4 separate regions of the Homo sapiens genome follow, and all the other regions are linked to region 1. The links come from fine-mapping of genetic effects on gene expression. A gene starts in region 1. Each other region holds a variant in brackets. All regions are shown on one strand. Distances are between the middles of the regions. Region 1 holds the start of ATP8B4 (ATPase phospholipid transporting 8B4 (putative)). Region 2 overlaps ATP8B4 (ATPase phospholipid transporting 8B4 (putative)). Region 3 overlaps ATP8B4 (ATPase phospholipid transporting 8B4 (putative)). Region 4 overlaps ATP8B4 (ATPase phospholipid transporting 8B4 (putative)).

The links. PIP is the estimated chance that this variant, and not a neighbour inherited with it, causes the effect.
Region 2: its variant is fine-mapped to the expression of ATP8B4 in whole blood (TOPMed, PIP above 0.99). The same link has a PIP of 0.9 or more in blood mononuclear cells.
Region 3: its variant is fine-mapped to the expression of ATP8B4 in whole blood (TOPMed, PIP above 0.99).
Region 4: its variant is fine-mapped to the expression of ATP8B4 in non-classical monocytes (Schmiedel 2018, PIP 0.92).

What each region holds. Positions count from the first base shown.
Region 1 is chr15:50,117,046-50,122,205 of GRCh38, reverse strand. It overlaps ATP8B4 (ATPase phospholipid transporting 8B4 (putative)), which reads left to right and starts at 2,973. Exons shown (of 28, transcript NM_024837.4): 1 at 2,973-3,083.
Region 2 is chr15:50,063,181-50,068,340 of GRCh38, reverse strand. The region is part of intron 3 of ATP8B4 (ATPase phospholipid transporting 8B4 (putative)); the gene reads left to right. Among named protein-coding and RNA genes, the nearest start is that of ATP8B4, 53 kb to the left of the region's middle. The variant C/A (reference allele first, on the strand shown) is at 2,795.
Region 3 is chr15:49,886,712-49,891,871 of GRCh38, reverse strand. The region is part of intron 23 of ATP8B4 (ATPase phospholipid transporting 8B4 (putative)); the gene reads left to right. Among named protein-coding and RNA genes, the nearest start is that of ATP8B4, 230 kb to the left of the region's middle. The variant C/T (reference allele first, on the strand shown) is at 2,578.
Region 4 is chr15:50,085,900-50,091,059 of GRCh38, reverse strand. All of the region lies in intron 2 of ATP8B4 (ATPase phospholipid transporting 8B4 (putative)), which reads left to right. Among named protein-coding and RNA genes, the nearest start is that of ATP8B4, 31 kb to the left of the region's middle. The variant C/T (reference allele first, on the strand shown) is at 2,517.

The sequences.
Region 1 (5,160 bases):
TAGGCCAGGCCATCCCACTTGTTACAGGTAGTTAATCTGTTTATCTAAAACCATAATTCATTGGCTTTCTTAGCTATCTTGGCAGTTAGGCAAGAGATATTTACAGGTTCTAAGAAACATAAGATGCTATTTATTCCGTTGTATATTAGACTTATAGTTGTGTGGTTTCAGATTCTTAAGAATAAAAATTTCCATCTCTTCGTTTTGATGAAATGTGTGTAAAGTTGGAGAACAAGGTAAAAGAGTGAGTAAATTCAGAATTCTTTTTTTCTCTCAAATGCTCAGATACTTAATTAAAATTCCTTTAATATGATCACGAGATTTTTGTCAGGACAAGTTGAGATGATCCTTGAGAAAGCACTTTGAAAACTCTAGACTACAGACATAAAGGACGTTTGTCAAAAGTAAGGCTTTAAAACAAAATAAGGCCTCTTGAAAACACAGACCTGGCGTTCTGACAGTGCACATACTGCCTAATAGGGATGAAAGTTTAAGCTCTGTTTAGCTACCTTTGTATAATGGGAATAAAAGGTTTTTTTTTTCTTGTATCCTAAATCGAGAATTTAAACTGTTTTCTGATTAGCAAGGGTTTGCAGTCACACTAGTAATAGTCCTCTATAAGATGGACATCCTTCTCTGTTCCCCGTCTTTCTACTCCTTATGAAGAAAAAGTAGAAATTTTTGAAAAAGTTGTGCTAGGTATACATAACATGACATTTATCATTTTAACTACCTTTAAGTGTACAGTTCAGTGGCTTTAAGTACATTCACAGTGTTGTATAACTATCACCATTATCCATCTCCAGGACTTTTCCATCATCCCAATCTGAAACCCTGTACCCATTAAACAATACCTTCCCATACTCTCTTCCTGCAGCCCTTGGTAGCCTCTACTCTTTCTGTCTCTGTGAATTCACCTATTCTTCTTGCTGAGCCTTGCTGTTATCATTATTCATTCGACATTATTCATTATTCATGAGTGCTTATTATGGACACCAGGAGTTCAACAGTAAACAAAAGTCCCTGCTCTCAAGGAGCTTTTATTTTAGTGGGAGGGAGACAATAAACAGCGAGCACATTTAAAATATTTTTTAAAAATGAGATTATCTTATACACAATTCTTCTGCAACTTGATCTTTTCACTTGACAGTACATCTTGGACATCTTTTTCTATGTCAGTCTGAAGAGGCCTATCTCTTATTTATAATAGCTAAATTTATTGAGTCTCTACTTTGCTCCAGGCACTGTTTTAGTTGCAACAATCCTATGAGGTAAGTTCTATAATGATCATCTTTTTACAGATGGCCCAGATAAGTGTAGGAGCTTGCATAGTCACCTGGCCAGTCACTGGTGGAGACAGAACTAAACTCAGATGACCTGATTCCTTACTCCAATTCTACCCTCTTTTGAATGGCTACATAGTACTCTTTTGTATCAATATACCTTAACTTATTTAGGCAGTCTCTTATATGTAAGCCATTTTTAGGTGTTTTTTTGTTGTTGCTATCATAGTGCTATAATTAACATATTTAGAGATATGTTTGCACGTGTGTGTGGTTTTCTATAAGGTAAATTCCTAAGAAATAAAAACACATACACATTTCAATACTTGATAGGCACTACTATACTCAGTTTCCTTTAAAAAATATTTTACCAATTTATATTCCCACTAACAGTATAGGAAAAGGAAAAGGCCCTGATTTCCTTATATCTTCTTTAACAAAGGGAATTACCAAACTTATATTTGCCCCATATGATAGGTTTAAAAATGGTATAGAGGTGATACTTAAAAATGTTTTTCACTTAAAAGTGTTTTTTATTTTAAATATTTTAAAGAGATGATTGCTTCCTGCTCTAAGCTGTTCTTGGTCCTCTTTTATCATGTAAGAAAGAAAGCCATCTCTCTTATTTCCAGAAATCTGTAGTTTCTTGTTACTGTGGAACCTTGGTAGGAAAAGGCCCTTGTTTCTGTGAAAACCTGAGGGCCCAGCGTGAGGATGTTCCAGGAGAGTGGAGTTGATGGTGCGCAGGGGATTAGCTTGCTCTGGTTATAGAGACATGATTAAAATCTATTTGATTTCAGTACTTAACTGGCAAATCTGATGCAACTTCTGGAAAATTCCTAGATGGCTTTAGGCATATTTAAAAGAAGCCATATTTTTCCTTTTAAAAATAGATATGCACCAAAATATTTTATTTTCATCTAATCCCGCTTTAACAACCAGAATCCCCTTAAAAGCAATTCCAAACTAAAAGATGTAAATCCATTTCCTATGTGCATTTGTTCTTTGGTACCATCAGGGTTAATGTTTGCATCCTCTGTGCTGAAATTAAGGATGTTGGGAAAGAAGTGTCATTGCTTTGCCTACTAAATGTCACTTGAGTATGCTTAGCTTTCATCCATAAGAGAGCTGAACTTCCCCTGTAAAAAAAAAAAAAAAAAAAAAAAAAAAGTGACAAAAACCCACTGCTGATTCTTTCATCTCTGCAAAAGCAGGTGGGAACTGCAAACAGATTTGCTTATCTTCCTCAGTCAAGGGCTGGTAAAAGTTTGGTAAGTAGGCCTGGTAGCCGGTGTCCCCTTCCATTGTTCATTTTCATCCTCCTGAATTCTTGATTCCCACAGAGGAAGCCATCCTCAGAAGCCAGCCTCTTGGGAGTTTCCTTTTGTTTCCCCAAGATTAACCAGTTCTGTCCTGTCAGCAGGAGCAGGCAACTAGGGGAGGAGAGGCTCTTCAGGGCTTTCAGCATTTTTCCAAGGAGTGCTTTTCTCCCTCAATTCCTCACTGACAGTGAAGCTGCTTTCTTGTAAGGTCTTCCTCTTCTTCTGATGAGATGCTGATTCTGATTGCCATCTAGCAGCTTCCGGTGGTGGTAAGTGGTCAAGAGTGTTTTTCCAGGAGTTGATCTCAGGTTTTTGAGAATGCCCCCTAGAGACCCAGTTTGTTTTCTGTATCATCCCTCAAGCTTTCAGAGTAGCCTTGCTTTTCTCCTTGGCATGGTCACGGAATGGATACCTGTTTGATCTTCCTGCACTGCTGAGAAATCTTCCTTTTGGGGGAGAGGATTAAGTCTGGGTTGAGGTGAGTAGATGGGTAGCATTCAATGGTTAGTGAGATGAAGTGGAAATTTAGCTGTGGGCTGGTTGGAACGATCTGTTTCTTTTCTCCAGATCCCTATTTTGTTTTGCTGTTTTCATCTTGGTGACTAAGGTTTCACAAATATTCTTTATTATTCCCCTTTTGCTAAAAAATAAATTTGGGGGAGTTAGTTGGAAATGGGAGATGTGACATTTTCTTTTTTGTTGTTTGAAATGTCTATTTTTTACTCTGTTAGCATGCCTATTAAATGACCAATGATAGTAGCATAAAGGTACATTTCTTCTTGGTTTGTAGGTCTTTGTCACTTCCTTTGGTAGTAGTTGGTTTTATTTTTTTCACGGGGTTTGTATACAGTGCACCTATTCAATATATTGTTTATGGTCAATTTATGCTTTAGACATGAACAGTTTGCACTGAGCTATCCCTCTGAGGTTTGAGGGTTATGTTTTTAGTGCTAAAATTTGTCTGAACAGAAAAAGGTATCCTTCTAGTTGTTTTGTTTATAGGCAAGAGAGTGTCTCAGGTCCCTGGTTAACAATTAGCTGTTTTGAAGAAAAGAAAACTGGTGAAAAACATTAATTGGAAGCTGAAGTCTTGTTAGAAAGTAAATGAGGAAACACAGGTTTTCTTGTGGGATTACCAACACCTGTGCCCATGAAGTATCCCCTTTTACTCAGCTGTTGCTCCATGCTGGCCTTTACTACAAAATGTAAACTCAGAGTGATTTCAGTTTTGATTTTTTTAAATGTATTTTTTATTTTTTATGTGATATGTAATAACTGCACATATTTATGGGGTACATGTGATATTTTGGTATATGCATACGATGTGTAATTAGCATATATATCACCTCAAACATTTACCATTTCTTTGTGTTGGGAACATTCCAAATCTGCTAGCTATTTTGAGATACAATAAATTATCATTATCTATATCGTTTATTTTATCGTTTATATCTATATCGTTTATTATAAATAAAAAATAAATTATCATTATCTATTGTCATACTACCGTGTTATCAAATACTAGAACCTGTTCCTTCTATCTGACTGTATGTTTGTACCCATTAACCAGCCTACCTTCACCCCCTTCTTCCTCTTCCCCTTCCTAACCTCTGGTAACCACCATTCTCCCTCTCTACCTTCATGAGATCAACTTTTTTAGCTCCCACATATGACAGAGGATATGTGATATTTGTCTTTCTGTGCCTGGCTTATTTTGCTTAACATAATATCCTCCAGTTCCATCCATGTTGCTGCAAATGATAGAGTTTTATTCTTTTTCATGGCTGAATAATATTCCATTGTATATAAATACCACATTTAAAAATTTTATTCCTCAAGAAGAAATATTATTGCTTCCATATCTTGGCTATTGTGAATAGTGCTGCAATAAACAGGGGAGTACAGATATCTCTTCAAGGTACTTATTTCCTTTCTTTTGGATGTATTCCCAGAAGTGGGATTGCTGGATCATATGGTGGATCTGTTTTCACTTTTTTTGAGAAACCACAGAGTGATTTATTTTAACCTATATTGTGCCTTTATATTGTCTCATCATGCAGAAATATTTAAAAATGAGGGAACAAATGATTTTTTTTGTGCCCCTGGAGGATTTTTTTGTGGGTGGGAGAATTTTATTTTTTTCATATGTGGCATATTGAATATTTTCATTTAGTAGGAAAAGAGTTAACTAACCATCTAAAAGTAAATTGGAAATTGTAGCTGTCATTGAAATTAAACTTAATGTATGTTTGGCCAGATGCAGTGGCTCATGCCTGTAATCCCAGCACTTTGGGAGGCTGAGGCAAGTGGATTACTTGAGGTCAGGAGTTCGAGACTACCCTGGCCAACATGATGAAACGCCCTCTCTACTAAAAATACAAAAATTTACCAGGCATGGTGGTGGGCTCCTGTAATCTCAACTACTCAGGAGGCTGAGGCAGGAGAATCGCCTGAACCGTGTGGTGGAGGTTGCAGTGAGCCGAGATCAGGCCACTACACTCCAGCCTGGGTGACAGAGCGAGACTCTGTCTCCACAAAAAAATAAATAAATAAAA
Region 2 (5,160 bases), 54 kb after region 1:
CCAAAGTGTTCATTCAGTGCAACAATGTGGTTGAGTACCTCCAACCCCCAGCAGTCAGTGCTACAATCACACCACTAAGGCTCCCTGCAACATGAACTCCTTTTATTTCCCTCCCGCCCATTTAAATAGGACTTTGTACGTTTCCACAGTCAGCAAACTTCTCTCTCCTCTTAACTCAGAATCTAAGTGGTTGAGAGTAGAGTAGAAAAATATGGTTCACCATCATTCTCAGTGTGTGAGCCGAGATGGTCACTGGGCCTCTTTAGGCCCACATCATAATAATGTATCTGTGTTTCTCTGAGAAAAGACTGGCTTAACAGGAAAATTTCATGTTCCTGTGTGTGGGGTGCATAGACCATTCATTGTCCCCTTTTCTTTAATAGAAATAAAAATAATTTTCAGAATTTAATATTCACAACATACCTGCTCTATACCTAGCAACATGTATGTTTGTTGCCTTTTCCTCATTTATTTTCCAAACAGTATTTGCGGCAATGTACAAAAAGCATATAAAGCTCAAAGGGATAACAATACATGAAGAAGCTAGTGTAGGCAGAATATGTTTAGGTGGGCCCCAAAGTGCATGCTACAGGACGTGCCTGCTTAGACTAGCAGTGTGTTGAGTGCTACTGGAGCTATTAAGAAAGGGGGTACAAATTCTGCTTTCTACCTTCAAGGAGCAGATATAGTCTACTCAGGAAGAGAAGCCCAGCACACTAGAATGAAACTAATAATAGGTAAGAATGAAAAGGTGCTGTGAAATTCTAATTTTGTGATGTGGCCTGTAAATGCTAGGGAAAGGAGAGCTCAAAGTACACGAAAGTGTTTGAGGAAGTTTTGCCAGAGGAAGTGGGAAATGATTCCTGCCTTGTTTATTTGTACCACCACTGTTAGCAAGGAGAGACAGGAGCAAAAGCCTGTAGTCAGACCTTAGACTACAGGCTAAGAGAAGTGACAGTATGTCATGAGGAATTATGGTTTGGGTAGGTGAGAACAGACTATTTAAAAAGAGAGTTTAAACATGAGGTAATTGGCTGTCAGGAGCTGGGGAATCACAAAGTGAAAAGGGATTTTATTTGCCCTCCATATAAAATAGGCCAAATCCCCAAACGGAAATGGCCAGGTTAACACAGAACGTAAGTTGGGTGTGGTGGGAGCTGTAGATTTAGGAATATCGGCTGGAAGGAGAAACTTTGAGCTAGGAGAGAAGTGAGGCTTGTTAAGCAGTGATGGAACTTGCTAAATGTGAGGTATGGGGTGGAAACTCAGTTTGTTAGAGAGTGGGAGGGAAAGAACTTAAGAAGGAACAGAGGACAGCAAGGATTGAAGTGAACGAAGAGAGGACAGTGTAGGAAAGTGTTAAGGAAGGGAACGTCTCAGGAAAGAGGGAGTGGTGAACTGGTCTAATGGTAGGTGCCTATGAGGTTAAGAACTAAGGGAAAACATCTTTAATAGAAGGAAGTAACTGGAGGACCTGAAGAAAGCCGTTTTAATTTTTTAAGAAAGTTGAGGTTTAAAAGTCGGAGGGCAGAAAAAAACCCCACAAACTGTAAAAAAAAGAAAGAGGGGGTGGGGTAGAGCTAATTCAATTAATAGCTTGCAATAAAGAGAAGAGAAACAGTATAAAAGCTTTCAGGCTGACTGAAATTTGGTCAACCATTTTTAAATCAATCTTTTCACATATTTTGGCTTTTTAAGTATGTGTTTAAAATCCATGGAAAGGTAAAACTCCGTAAATATTTTCTTTGGGAGACTCTTGGGATGTCACCATGTTGAAACACATCCCCGGACTGATGGGACATTTGGGTCTCTATTCTTCTTGAGCAGCATAGCTGTACTGCCCACATGATGCAGATCCTCACCTATGGGGCTGATGACCAGATGCACCAACTAAAGAGTACAGATGATGACAAGCAGTGTGACACGTTGGAATTAGTCATGGAAAGCACCAGTAACTTGCATTTGTTATGGGTTTCTGGTTGTTAGTTGTTGCTTTTTTGTATTGGGGCATCACCATAGTAACAGTGGCTTTTTAGCAAACATTGAAAATGGCTTCTGTTTTGTGTGCTGTTAATATCTGTGTATGTTATTCTAAGTTTGACATGGCAAAGGTTTTAATTTTTTTCTTTATAAATAATTTACTTGTAGGAGAAAATATATTTTTTGGATATCTCTCAAATTCATTTTCTTTCTGGATTCAAGAGTATAAAAACATAAATATTTTTTATCTTTTTGACATCTGATTTGTTTAAATAGTGTTATTCTTTGGCTAAGCATTCGTCTGGTTTCTTGTTTCCCTAATTTAGTTTGCCTGTTTTAATCTTTTTTTTTTTTTTTCTGGCCTCTGAATTTCTATTCCTAAATGTTCTAAAATGGCATATTAAAGTAATTAAAGAATCTAGGTAAGTTCTCTGAGGTATTTGTTTGTTATTTACCTGTTCCAGGCTTGAGATAATTTCAGCATCCTCATAAACTAGTTCCCATTCCATCTGCTTTGAGAAGTAAATTTTAAGTTAAAAAAACAGATTTGGCTTATTTATTTATTTTTATTTTTACTTTCTTCACTGCAATGGTACAAAACTGAAAAGTATGCAAGCAATATGTAATTGGAATTACAAGAGTTAAAATAAGCAATTTTTGATGGCAGAATTTTGCTCTGTTATAGCTTGGCTGTAATGGAATAAATTTAAGATTGAGAAATGAAAAGATTACATAGAAAGAAGAGTAAGTTACTTGTGAAGAAGGAACTATAAATGGAGTTTCCTTTGTTGGCAAATGGTTCATGAAAATAATC[C/A]ATAAATCAACTGTGTGGATGAAATTGGGCAAGTTTAGTAACAATTGAGAGGTTAACGGAAAAAAACCACTAACCCCAACGGTCTCAAAGTGGTTTTTATCTTGTTTTGCAATCTTCTTTACTGGACCAAATGGTCTGGTTCTGGGAATCTTATTGTTAAAAGATGGTAACAATCATGTTTTACATTTTGTTGTTGAAAGATCAAATCATTTATGTACCAAGGTGATCTTAACTTCATGTCCACTATTATGAAACTAGTACCAGATTACTGTCACATTTTACACCTGATTTTCTATGTAGTTTCTTTTTTTTGACAAATAAAAATTGTATATATTTATAGTACACAACATAATGTTTTGAAATATGTATAAATTACAAAATGGCTAAATCGACCTGATTTACATATGCCTTATCTCACATAACTTATCATTTTTTTATGATGAGAACACTTAAAATCTACTCTCATAGCAATTATCAAATGATATGATTTGGATCTGTGTTCCCACCAAATCTCATGTCGAATTGTCATCGCTAGTGTTGGAGGTGGGGCATAGTAGAAGGTGACTGGATTATGAGGGTGAAGTTCTTATGAGTGGGTTAGCACCATCCCCTCGGTGTTGTTCTCATGATAGTGACAGTGAGTTATCCTGAGATCTGGTTGTTTAAAAGTGTGTAGCACCTCCTCCCTCTCCCTTTTGCTCCTGCTTCAACCGTGTAAGATGTGCCTGCTTCCCCTTTGCCTTCTGCCATGATTGCAAGTTTCTTAAGGCTTCCTCAGAAGCAGAAGCCTCTATGCTTTGTGTACAGCCTGCAGAACCATGAGCTAATTAAACCTCTTGTCTTTATAAATTACCAGTCTCAGGTATTTTGTTATAGTAGCATGAGAATAGACTAATACATCAAGTATACAATTTGCAGGTTTATTACAAAAGTAAGCTACTTAGGCATTAAACTTGAAAATTCTTTAAAAATGATCCAAGACTTGGGCTATATATTTGTCAATAAATCTGTGTCTATTGCATGACTGTGTGCACGGAGGTAGTGTTGTAGTTGTGAGGAAGTGTATACAGTTTTGTAAGGATGTTTTTGCTTGAATAATGAGAGACTGTTCTCAGAGGAATTAAGCAGAGGACAGCAATCAGAGTCACATGCCAAGACTGTTGATCTAAATCTCTAGCTCCTGATACCCTTGACTTGGTGTCTCTAGCAGTCCTGATTGTACTGGGTTTTATGTGTCCTCCTTGGTTGTCAGTTCACATCATTACAGATGTGGCTGTTCAGGTGTCATCTAGGTAAGTTATAGATGGTGACATCATTGTGTACCAATTGTCCAAAAGTTTAGGGAAGAAGGGCTTTTTTTATACAAAAGGAAAAACCTGATTTCTTAGGTACTGCAAGGAAATTAGCTTCAGTACAATACACTGTGGAATCTCAGTGTGGAATTATCCTTTAAAGCTTTTCCATTCAACTCTCTTTACAGAATTCTAACCAACTCCATGTCCTGTCTGTGCTTTTATCCCTTTAGAAGAGGGGACCTCATTACCTCCCCAAACAGCCTTTTCTTTCTTTGGGTAGTTTTAATCATTAGGTAATTTTTCCATCAATTGAGCCAAATTGATATTCTCTTGCTTTATTTTCCATTGTTTTAGCTTTTCTTCAGAGACCAAAGCAGAGCAAACATGTCTTCTGTTTCATGCAACAACACTTCAGATATTTGTGTTTAAAATATCAAACACAAATTCATCAAATAAACAGATCTCCAGGAAAATCACCTGCTATTCCTTTTCTTTTCAAAGAGCCTCAGTTTTTCTATAACTTCTTCAAGTGGGTTCCTCCAAAGTCAAACACAATAGTCTAGAATTTATTTGACCATCTTGAAGTAGAGAAAGATTATTAATACAGTCTAAGACTGTACTATCTTTTCAGTGACTGTTGAGTCTATTAATCTCATATTAATTTTATTTTTATTGTTAATGACAAGAACCGTGTCACATTTATCTCCATATCTTGCTTGTCATAGGGCTTGTTGGCACATAATAGGCACTTACTCTGTCATTAAACTATTCCTTTTATTATTGTATCTATGTGGACTTTAGCATCTCTCTGTATTGTCATTGATAGTTAAACAAATGGGCCAATGAAATCAGAAGCTTTAGGGGTGGAGTCCAGGCATTTTTTTTTTTAAAGCTCCCCTAGTGATTCTAATGGGCAACCTGGATTAATCACTGATCTAAGTTAATAATAAAAATACTGAGCACAACACAATGAAGAACATGGCCATGCGTCTTATCACTAGAGACCTCCCTATAGGTTGCTGTTGGGCCATTAATCATTACATTTTGTTTACTTAGCTAGTTCCAATTTCT
Region 3 (5,160 bases), 230 kb after region 1:
AATGCTGGGATTACAGGCATGAGCCACTGTGCCCGGCCCAAGATGTTGTTTTTAATTTAATAATTTCTGTCTTCCTCATCTGTGAGTCACATGACATTGTCAACTTGCTAATAGAAAGACTTGCTTGCTATCTTGGGAAGAGAAAACAAAATAATGAAAAGGACAAACTCTTGCCCACCTAGAACTGGTTTTTCTCATTGGGAAATAAATAAGTGCATAAATCAGTCTAATACAAATATTGTATTTAGTTGGGTGCAGTGGCTCGCACCTGCAATCCTAGCACTTTGGGAGGCCAAGGTGGGCAGATCGCTTGAGGTCAGGAGTTTGAGACCAGCCTGGCCAACGTAGTAAAACTTCGTCTCTACTAAAAATACAAAAAATAGCTGGACGGGGTGGAGCGTGCCTGTAATCCCAGCTACTTAGGAGGCTGAGGTAGGAGAATCGCTTGAACCTGGGAGGTGGAGGTTGCAGTGAGCTGAGATCACACCACTGCATTCCAGCCTGGGTGATGGAGCGAGACTCCATCTCAAAGCAAACAAACAACAAACAAACAAACTTGTATTTAAAGGTAATTTGAAAGCATGGGGAAAGGAGAAATGTGTGAGGATCTAGGATGACTTAGGAGGATCTGGGATGACTTAGGCACAATTAGTCTGCAAGCAAGTGTATGAATATTTTAAAAATTAAGTGGAGATCTGAAGGCCTGAAATTCTAGCTCCCTTCAGGGATTTGGGGCTTGATTTGCAGAAGGGTATGAGACTTTGGAGTAAAAGGAGGACATCCCTCCCCTCATACACTTTCCAACTGACCTGTAATTAGCTAAAATCTTGTAATTTCTAAAATTCTGTTTAACACCAACTCATTGAGAAATACCTTTCAAAAACTTCATGGCATTGAATGGGGAGCTTACTTAGCAGTATTGTCTATAGCAAGAAGCCTGTTCTAGAGCAGGTGTTCTACCACTGTAAAGCTGGAAACTCTGGTGTTCCCCAGCCACACCCCACATGGGAGTGGCCTGGCATGTTCGCGGTATTGAAGACTGGCTGTGAAGGTGGCTCGGATTTGGAATTGGGATTGGCAGGGATCATTGTCTCTTTTCCATTCCCTGTTTTTCACTGGAAGGGCCTGATTAGCAACAGGTTTAACTGAAAAATGTTTTGGCTTTTTTTTAGTCCTGTTTTTCTAAGGACAATATGCTGTAAATGAGGCAAGTGAAAAGAAAACAACATATTTGTAAGAACTACAGAGAATGAGAATTTTTGAATGGGGGACAGTTTCACTGTCATACTCTCTCACTTCCCCGTTAAGATCACCCAACATGTGGCTTTGGCCTCCAACACCATGTGTTGGGTGATGAGACTTTCTTAGCCCCTAAAGCCCCTTAGATAGCCACTTACTTCCAGTCTTTTAAAGAAAGTCAGCTGTCTGAGGTCTTCCCACTCCCTGCCACCCCTCTCCTAAACTGCTTTAACAGGATTGAAAGCTCCATAGTGAAATGGAGCCAGTAGTAATAACTCCAAGGCCTGGCAGATTTGGTAATAGCCAGCATCTCTTTAGAGGCCATTCCTGGGTAGGCCTAATCTTCCATCACTTTCTCTGTCCAGTCCTGACAGCAGTGAGACTCTCACACATATTGTCCAATGCAGAACCTGTGGTCTGAATGCTTGCTCATTTACCAACAATAAACTGGGTGCCAATTTAGGGCCAGGTGCTCTGATGGCCCCCCAGGAACAACAGAGTGAATCAAAGGGATGCTGTTCCTACCCTCAAGGAACCTACAGTCTGGGAAAGATTTTATTTTCATAAATGCATAACAAATGTTGAAAAATCCCATAATCTCCTTTCTTTTATTTCTCTACCAAAAATTTCTTTTGGAATAAATTTACTATGGATAAGCCATGTCTTGGGGCCAACCCTGTCAAATCACAGCATGATTCATAAGCGCCTAAATATTCTTCCGTGTACCTCTCAACAGATTGTTTGGAAGTAATCCTTTCTTCAGCTGAAAACATCTGACCAAATGTAAACAGATTGTGTTTTTTAAGACACAATGTTGACTTTCTAAAACACCAGCTTAATTATTTAATGAAGTGACATGTGCTGTTTCTTTACTACATCAGTCTGCCTTTGGGGCCTGGTGGATTTTATCCAGGCAATTATTATCTGATGAGAGCTCCAGCAGATTCCAGCCAATGCCCCATCCTGGTAGGTGGGCTGGGGCACATGTGTAGGCAAATCCAGCTGTGGTGTGCAAGGCTTCAAGAAGGCCAATGGGTGGAAGCATTACTGCCTGTGGGATGGTGGCACTTAGGACATCTGTGATGGATGGTGATGTGATGTAGTCTGGGTTGTCGTTGGTTTATGGACTTTCCTCTGGTTAACTTCAGTACGTTGCTTATGTTGTGATTGGCTTGAGATGTACAGTGAAAAGAACCCGCGGACCAGACTCCCTTTTGTTTCCTATGTTGGGTGGAATTTCCTGGGAGAAGCAGCGGGAACAAAGAACAAAAAGTATGTATCTTGTTGAACCTAGAATCTTTACTCTGGCAGAGAATTTCAGGGACATTGAGTCCAGTC[C/T]CTCGTTTTACAGAGGAGGATCCTGATCCTGCAGGAGCTGAGGATCAGCGGTAGGCAAGGCTAGGACCGGAACCAAGTCTCCTGGCTCCCACTTCAGCGCTCTGCCTACTCTACCTGATGATAAGTGACCTCTTGGGTTGTCATAAATTTGGAAAAGCTAATGGCCATATCCTTTTTTTTTTTAAAAATACTGTCTTCCCTCAACCCCTAATCAGAAAATGTTTGCTTTATTTGGAATCTAAAGGAGAAATATCCAGAAACACTCAGTTCAATATGACTATGTGGAGGAAATGAGCTCTCTATTGAAAGAGACCTCATGACTTGCGGGGTGTGTCATAGCTTAGAGCTGTGGGAGGGACAGGCCTGTCCCTAGGCGAACTGTTTGTAGAATCATCTGGAAGCTTGAGGACACCTTCTGCTGGCAAACGCTCCAACTCAACTGCCACTGAGAAACAAATTAAATATAATTTGTTCTAATGAGATTTCCAGCCAGATTTCTGGAACAGAGAGGTTTGGATAAAGGAGACTAGGTCTCTAAACTGAATCATGGATTCTTTTTAAGGACATGCCTTATCCCAATCTATTATTGAAACCCACATGAGTTTTGTGGCATCCACTGTGGGTTTGGATTCACAATTTATACCTGTAACTTATTTTAAAAGCACCCTATGCCTTCAGGACTTTTCGTAAAGAGGAACTGTCCCCTACCAAGGATACAGCCAAATAAAAAAAATTGGTTGAAGTCCTATTTAGAAAATTCATGCTTAAAATTATGCAACTACTGGTACTGTGTACTTGTGAGATGATATTATCTGATGACAATTTATCATTGTCAGTGAGATACAGGGCTGTGTATTTTTTTTTTCTTCAATTCTACTGTGATATGGAAGCAATTATCTTGTCAAGGCTGGAAAAACTTTAGTTCTGTCAAACAGTATAATAAAGCAACAAAAAGTTTGGAAAGTGACGTGAAAGACTGCGACTAATCTTAAGGCTTTGATGACTTCATGGATTTGGTTACCTGTGAGCCCGTCTCCACCTGGCATGGTAGCTCTGCTCCCCCTCACCTTCCAGATGTGCTCTGGGGAAAGTCCAGGACTGGACGAGTGCTCAGGCCTGGGTCACTCCTCCTGGATGCTGCGAGCGGGTTTTTACTAATTACACAAATCAATAACAGATGTGCTGAGGCTGAGCACCTCATATTTATTCCACAATGTGTTTTCTTTAAATGACAAATGTTTTTTAAGGCCCCCAAAAGGTCATTAGATAGGTTTCCTCTGCAACACATAGGAAAAGGGGGATACACATCTCCAAAGAGGTAGTAAGTTCATCCTGTTATTTGAACAAGGAGCTCAGCCAGTGGTCGAGCAGAAAGAGCAGAGAAAGCCCTTTGCAGCTGTTTAAGAACTTTATTAAGGTTTATTTAAATGTGTCATTCTATAAATCATAGGTTTTGTGTTCTCCAAGCTGTTTTTAGATTGTAATTTGTAGCTGGAGTATTTTTAACTCTATGTAAAATGGTTGATAAGGCTGATAAATTGCTCCCATAAAGAAGGGAGCGAGGAGCTTTCCTTAAATAGAAAAAACAGTGAAGTTGGAAAAATGAACTCTCCTCCCTGTTTTTTTTTTTTCTGATCTGTGAAGAGACACTTATAGGATTTTAAACAGACTTGTGACATCTTGTAGTAGCATGGCTTTTCTCTCTTGTTCAGAGTATTGGAGATAGGGAACAAATATTTTGGAGGCAGAGGTGCCATGGCTTCCCCTGTGAGTATGGGTGCCCTAGGGAAAATGGTTTTTTGTGGGACTCCTTTTATATAAACAATTTGAGTCACCCAAAATCAGAGTGTCGACCTAGAAATCTGAAAAGAGTCATCATCCCTCAACCTCCACCCTGCCCCTCTCTTCAGGGCATCTGGTCAACCTGTGTTGGGTGGGTTGGGAGGGAAGAAGAGGTGGTAGAGTGCCCGAGCATGCTTGGAAGGGGAGAAACAGGGAGGTTGATCTGGGCTCATGTGCCCCTCTCAGCTAGTCCTAGTCACCAGAAGGGGGCCTTAAAATTTTTCCAAGGGGATCTAAGGACCACAAGTAGAAGTGGGGCATTTACTAGAATAACTATTTGAGTAGCTGGAGATCTCTTGCAAGGATTCTTCAACAGAAACCTGTTGTAGAAGAAACATTGCTTGGCCAGGAACGGTGGTTTATGCTTGTAATCCCAGCACTTTGGGAGGTCAAGGCAGGTGGATCACCTGAGGCCAGGAGTTCAAGACCAGCCTGGCCAACGTGGCAAAACCCCGTCTATACTAAAAATACAAAAATTAGCCAGGCATGGTGGCAGGCACCTGTAATCCCAGCTACTCGGGAGGCTGAGGCAGGAGAATCGCTTGAACCCAGGGGGCAGAGGCTGCAGTGAGCCGAGATTGTGCCACTGCACTCCAGTCTGGGCAAAAGAGTGAAACTCTGTCTCAAAAAAAAAAAAAAAATTGCTTGTGGCCTTAATTTCTGTGAAAGACCCTGAAGTCTAAACTGTGCTAAGCCAATGCCCATATGGCAAAGTTGGTTTCTAAGGTAAAGGACTCAGGT
Region 4 (5,160 bases), 31 kb after region 1:
AATCTCAAATGTGCTATTTTCTTTTTTTTAAAAGCACCTAAAAGAGAGCTAACCAAATATGATATTTTCTATAAATAAAAGTACTCTTAATAACTCAGAAATTAAAAGCCTACTGTGAATTGTAAATTTACTTTTTACATGGTGAAAAAGCTAATTTAAACATCACATTTCAGGCCAAGTGAGGTGGCTCATACCTGTAATCCCCGTACTTTGGAAGGCCAAGGCTAGAGAATCTTTTGAGCCCAAGAGTTTGAGACCAGCCCTGGTAACACAGGGAAATCCCATCTCTAAAAAAAAAAAATCACATTTCAATAATTTTGGCTAGTATGATCTTGTTTCACTGTAGTAGTGCTGATTGTCTTATGAAAAATAAAAAATATTGACTAGTCATTCATTCATTCACTTTTTTAAAAACGAAACAGAAATGTATTCCTCACAGTTCTAGAGATGGTGAAATCCAATCAAGTGGTCAGCAGATTCAGTATCTGGTGGGGCTTGCTTCCTTGTTCATAGACAGCCATGTTTTTACTGTGTCCTCACATGGCAGAAGGTATGAGGGAGCTTTCTGTGGTCCCTTTGACAGGGGTGGCACTAATTTCATTTGTGAGGCCTCTGCCTTCATGACCTAATCACCTCCCAAGGTCCCACCTCTGAATTGCATCACATAGGGAATTAGATTTTTATTATTTTATTTTATTTAAGTTCTGGGATACATGTGCAGGATGTGCAGGTTTGTTACATAGGTAAATGTGGTGGTTTGCTGCATCTATCAACCTGTCACCTAGGAATTAAGCCCAGCATGCATTAACTATTTTTCCCGATGCTCTCCCTCCCGTTGTTCCCCTACCCCACAGGCCCCAGTGTGTGTTCTTCCCCTCCCTGTGTCCATGTGTTCTCACTGTTCAGCTCCCACTTGTAAGTGAGAACATGCGATGTTTGGTTCTTTGTTCCTGTTTTAGTGTGCTGAGGATAATGGCTTCCAGCTCCATCCGTGTCCCTGCACAGGACATGATCTCATTCCTTTTTATGGCTGCATAGTATTCCATGATGTATATGTACCACATTTTCTTTATCCAGTCTATCATTGATGGGCATTTGGGTTGATTCTATGTCTTTGTCATTGTGAATAGTGCTGCAATGAACATACGTGTGCATGTATCTTTGTAATAGAATGATTTATATTCCTTCGGGTATATACCTAGTAATGGGATTGCTGGGGCAAATGGTATTTCTGCCCGTAGGTCTTTGAGGAATCGCCATACTGACTTCCACAATGGTTGGAGTAATTTATATTCCCACCAACAGTGTAAAAACATTCCTGTTTCTCAAGATCGCGCCATTGCACTCCAGCCTGGGAGACAGAGTGAGACTCTGTCTCAAAAAAAAGAAAGAAAGAAAAAAAAAAGTTCCTGTTTCTCCACAGCCTCACTAGCATCTGTGGTTTCTTGACTTTTTAATAATTGCCATTCTGACTCGTGTGAGATAGTATCTCACTGTGGTTTTTGTTTGCATTTCTCTAATAATCAGTGATGTTGAGCCTTTTTTCATGTTTGTTGCCCACATAAATGTCTTCTTTTGAGAAGTTCATGTCCTTTGCCCACTTTTCAATGTGGTTGTTTGCTTTTTTCTTGTAAATTTGTTTAAGTTCCTTATAGATTCTGGGTGTTAGATCTTTGTCAGGTGGATAGATTGCAAAAATTTTTTCCCATTCTGTAGGCTGTCTGTTCACTCTGATGATAGTTTATTTTGCTGTGCAGAAGCTCTTTAGTTTAATTAGATCCCATTTGTCAACTTTTACTTTTGTTGCAATTGCTTTTGATATTTTTGTCATGAAATCTTTGCCCATGCCTATGTCTTGAATGGTACTGCCTAGATTTTCTTTTAGGGTTTTTATAGTTTTGGGTTTTACATTTGAGTCTTTAATCCATCTTGAGTTAATTTTCATATAAGGCATAAGGAAGGGGTCCAGTTTCAATCTTCTGCATATGGCTAGCCAGTTCTCCTAGCACCCTTTATTAAATAGGAAATCCTTTCCCCATTGCTTGTTTTTGTCAGGTAACCAAAACAGCATGGTACTGGTACAAAAACAGACACATAGACCAATGGAACAGAATAGAGAACTCAGAAATAAGACTGCACATCTACAACCATCTGATCTTTGAGAAACCATTCATTCACTTATTGATTTATCTATCCATTCATCTATCTAGCCATCCATCCATCTATCCATCATTCTGTCCATTTCAGAAATATATACTGAACGTTGATTATGTGCTAGACACTGTTCCAAAGGTTGCAGGTACAGCTGTGAACAAAACAGGTTTAAAGAAGTAAAAAGCCCTCAACCTGCATGGAGCTCACATTCTGGTCGGGGGCGGGGCAGAAAGACAATCAACAAAATAAATGAATAAATAATCTTCTACATTGGGTGGGAGTGTGCTGCAGTTTCAAAAAGGATAACCATGGAAGGCTGAATTAAGAAGACATATTTGATTGCAGATTTGAAAGAAGTGAGG[C/T]GGCAGCCATGTAAATACTTGAGCAATAAGCATGCCAGGCGAGGGAACAGTAAGTGCAAAGGCCATGAGATGAGAATGGACCTGGTGTGGTCAAGGAACAAGAGGCCACTGAGGCTGGAGTTGAATGAAGATGGGGGACAGTGGTTGTCAGGGCTGGATCGAGGGTTTTTTTGTTTGTTTGTTTTTTGTTTTTTTTTTTAGAGGGAGTCTCGCTCTGTCACCCAAGCTGGAGTGCAGAGACGCCTCCCGGGTTCAAGCAATTCTTCCCAAGTAGCTGGGACTACAGACGCCTGCCACCACGCCCAGCTAATTGTATTTTTAGTAGAGATGTGGTTTCACCATGTTGGTCAGGCTGGTCTCGAGCTTCTGCTCAGGTGATCCACCCGCCTTGGCCTCCTAAAGTGCTGGGATTACAGGTGTGAGCCACCGTGCCCAACCTGGATCTAGGTTTTTTGAGGTCTTAAGCTAATATAAATACAAAATACAAAATCAGGTATAATAAAAATATTAATTTAGAGTGAGAAAATCTCTATAAATTATAATTTTGAAAATTTGAAAAATACCCCAAGCATCCCAAAATTCAGAAAAACAACACAGTGTCTTCATTTTGCTGAATGTGCCTTTATAAAATGTTTTATTTATTTATTTTTGGCCTTTTATTTTTGATTGCCTCTCATATAACAATTATTTTGTTACAAAATTTTCTAAAGAGAGACTTAGATAATTCAGTTTTTCCTTTGGTATAGTTAATTAACATTAACTTAAGAATTATGGTAGCTTAGAAAAAATTTTCACCTTTGTGACTTCACAATGTCACATAAACATTTAGAATGGTCAACCTTGGAAAAACTTCCACCAAGTTTCTTTCATATATGAACTGTTACAGATATACTTGCCATAAGTAGTGCTGCTATAAGTAGGTTTATGCTCAAAAGCACAGGAATTCTAATGCATTTTATTCTGTGAAATCCCCATGAAAAAAGAAAAATATGTTTATTATACTTACTAAGTATAATAAGCATATCATGTCATACATGTATTCATCAACTCCTAGTCAAAACAGAATTTATCACCTCTCAAGAATATGAGGAGTGTATATATATTATGTATCAAATATATATGATATGTAATATATAATAAATATATGATATGTATAATATATATCTATATATTATTTTATTATATATAATATATAGATCTATATTATATATAAATATAGATCTATATCTATTATATATAATAGATATAGATCTATATATTATTCTATTATATATAATACATATAGATCTATATATTATTCTATTATATATAATAAATATAGATCTATATATTATTTTATTATATATAATATACAGAGATCTATTTATTATATATAATAGAGATCTATATATTATATATAATAAATATAGATCTATATATTATATATAATAAATATAATCTATATTTATTATATATAATATAGATCTCTATATTATTTTATTATATATAATAAATATAGATCTCTATATTATTTTATTATATATAATAATATAGATCTCTATATTATTTTATTATATATAATAAATATAGATCTCTATATTATTTTATTATATATAATAAATATAGATCTCTATATTATTTTATTATATATAATAATATAGATCTCTATTATTTTATTATATATAATAAATATAGATCTCTATATTATTTTATTATATATAATAATATAGATCTCTATTATTTTATTATATATAATAAATATAGATCTCTATATTATTTTATTATATATAATAATATAGATCTCTATTATTTTATATATAATAAATATAGATCTCTATATTATTTTATTATATATAATAATATAGATCTCTATTATTTTATTATATATAATAAATATAGATCTCTATTATTTTATTATATATAATAAATATAGATCTCTATTATTTTATTATATATAATAAATATAGATCTCTATATTATTTTATTATATATAATAAATATAGATCTCTATATTATTTTATTATATATAATAAATATAGATCTCTATATTTATTATATATAATTAAATATAGATCTCTATATTATTTTATTATATATAATAATATAGATCTCTATTATTTTATTATATATAATTATAGATCTCTATATTATTTTATTATATATAATAAATATAGATCTCTATATTATTTTATTATATATAATAAATATAGATCTCTATATTAATTATATATAATAAATATAGATCTCTATATTATTTTATTATATATAATAAATATAGATCTCTATATTATTTTATTATATATAATAAATATAGATCTCTATATTATTTTATTATATATAATAAATATAGATCTCTATATTATTTTATTATATATAATAAATATAGATCTCTATATTATTTTATTATATATAATAAATATAGATCTATTTTATTATATATAATATAGATCTATATTTATTTTATTATATATAATAAGTATAGTTCTATATTTATTATATATAATATATATAGATCTATATATTATATTATATATAATAAATATAGATCTATATATATTATATATAATAAATATATATGATATATTTGATATATCATATATAAATATATATGATATATATCATATATAAATATATATGATATATATCATATATAAATATATATGAT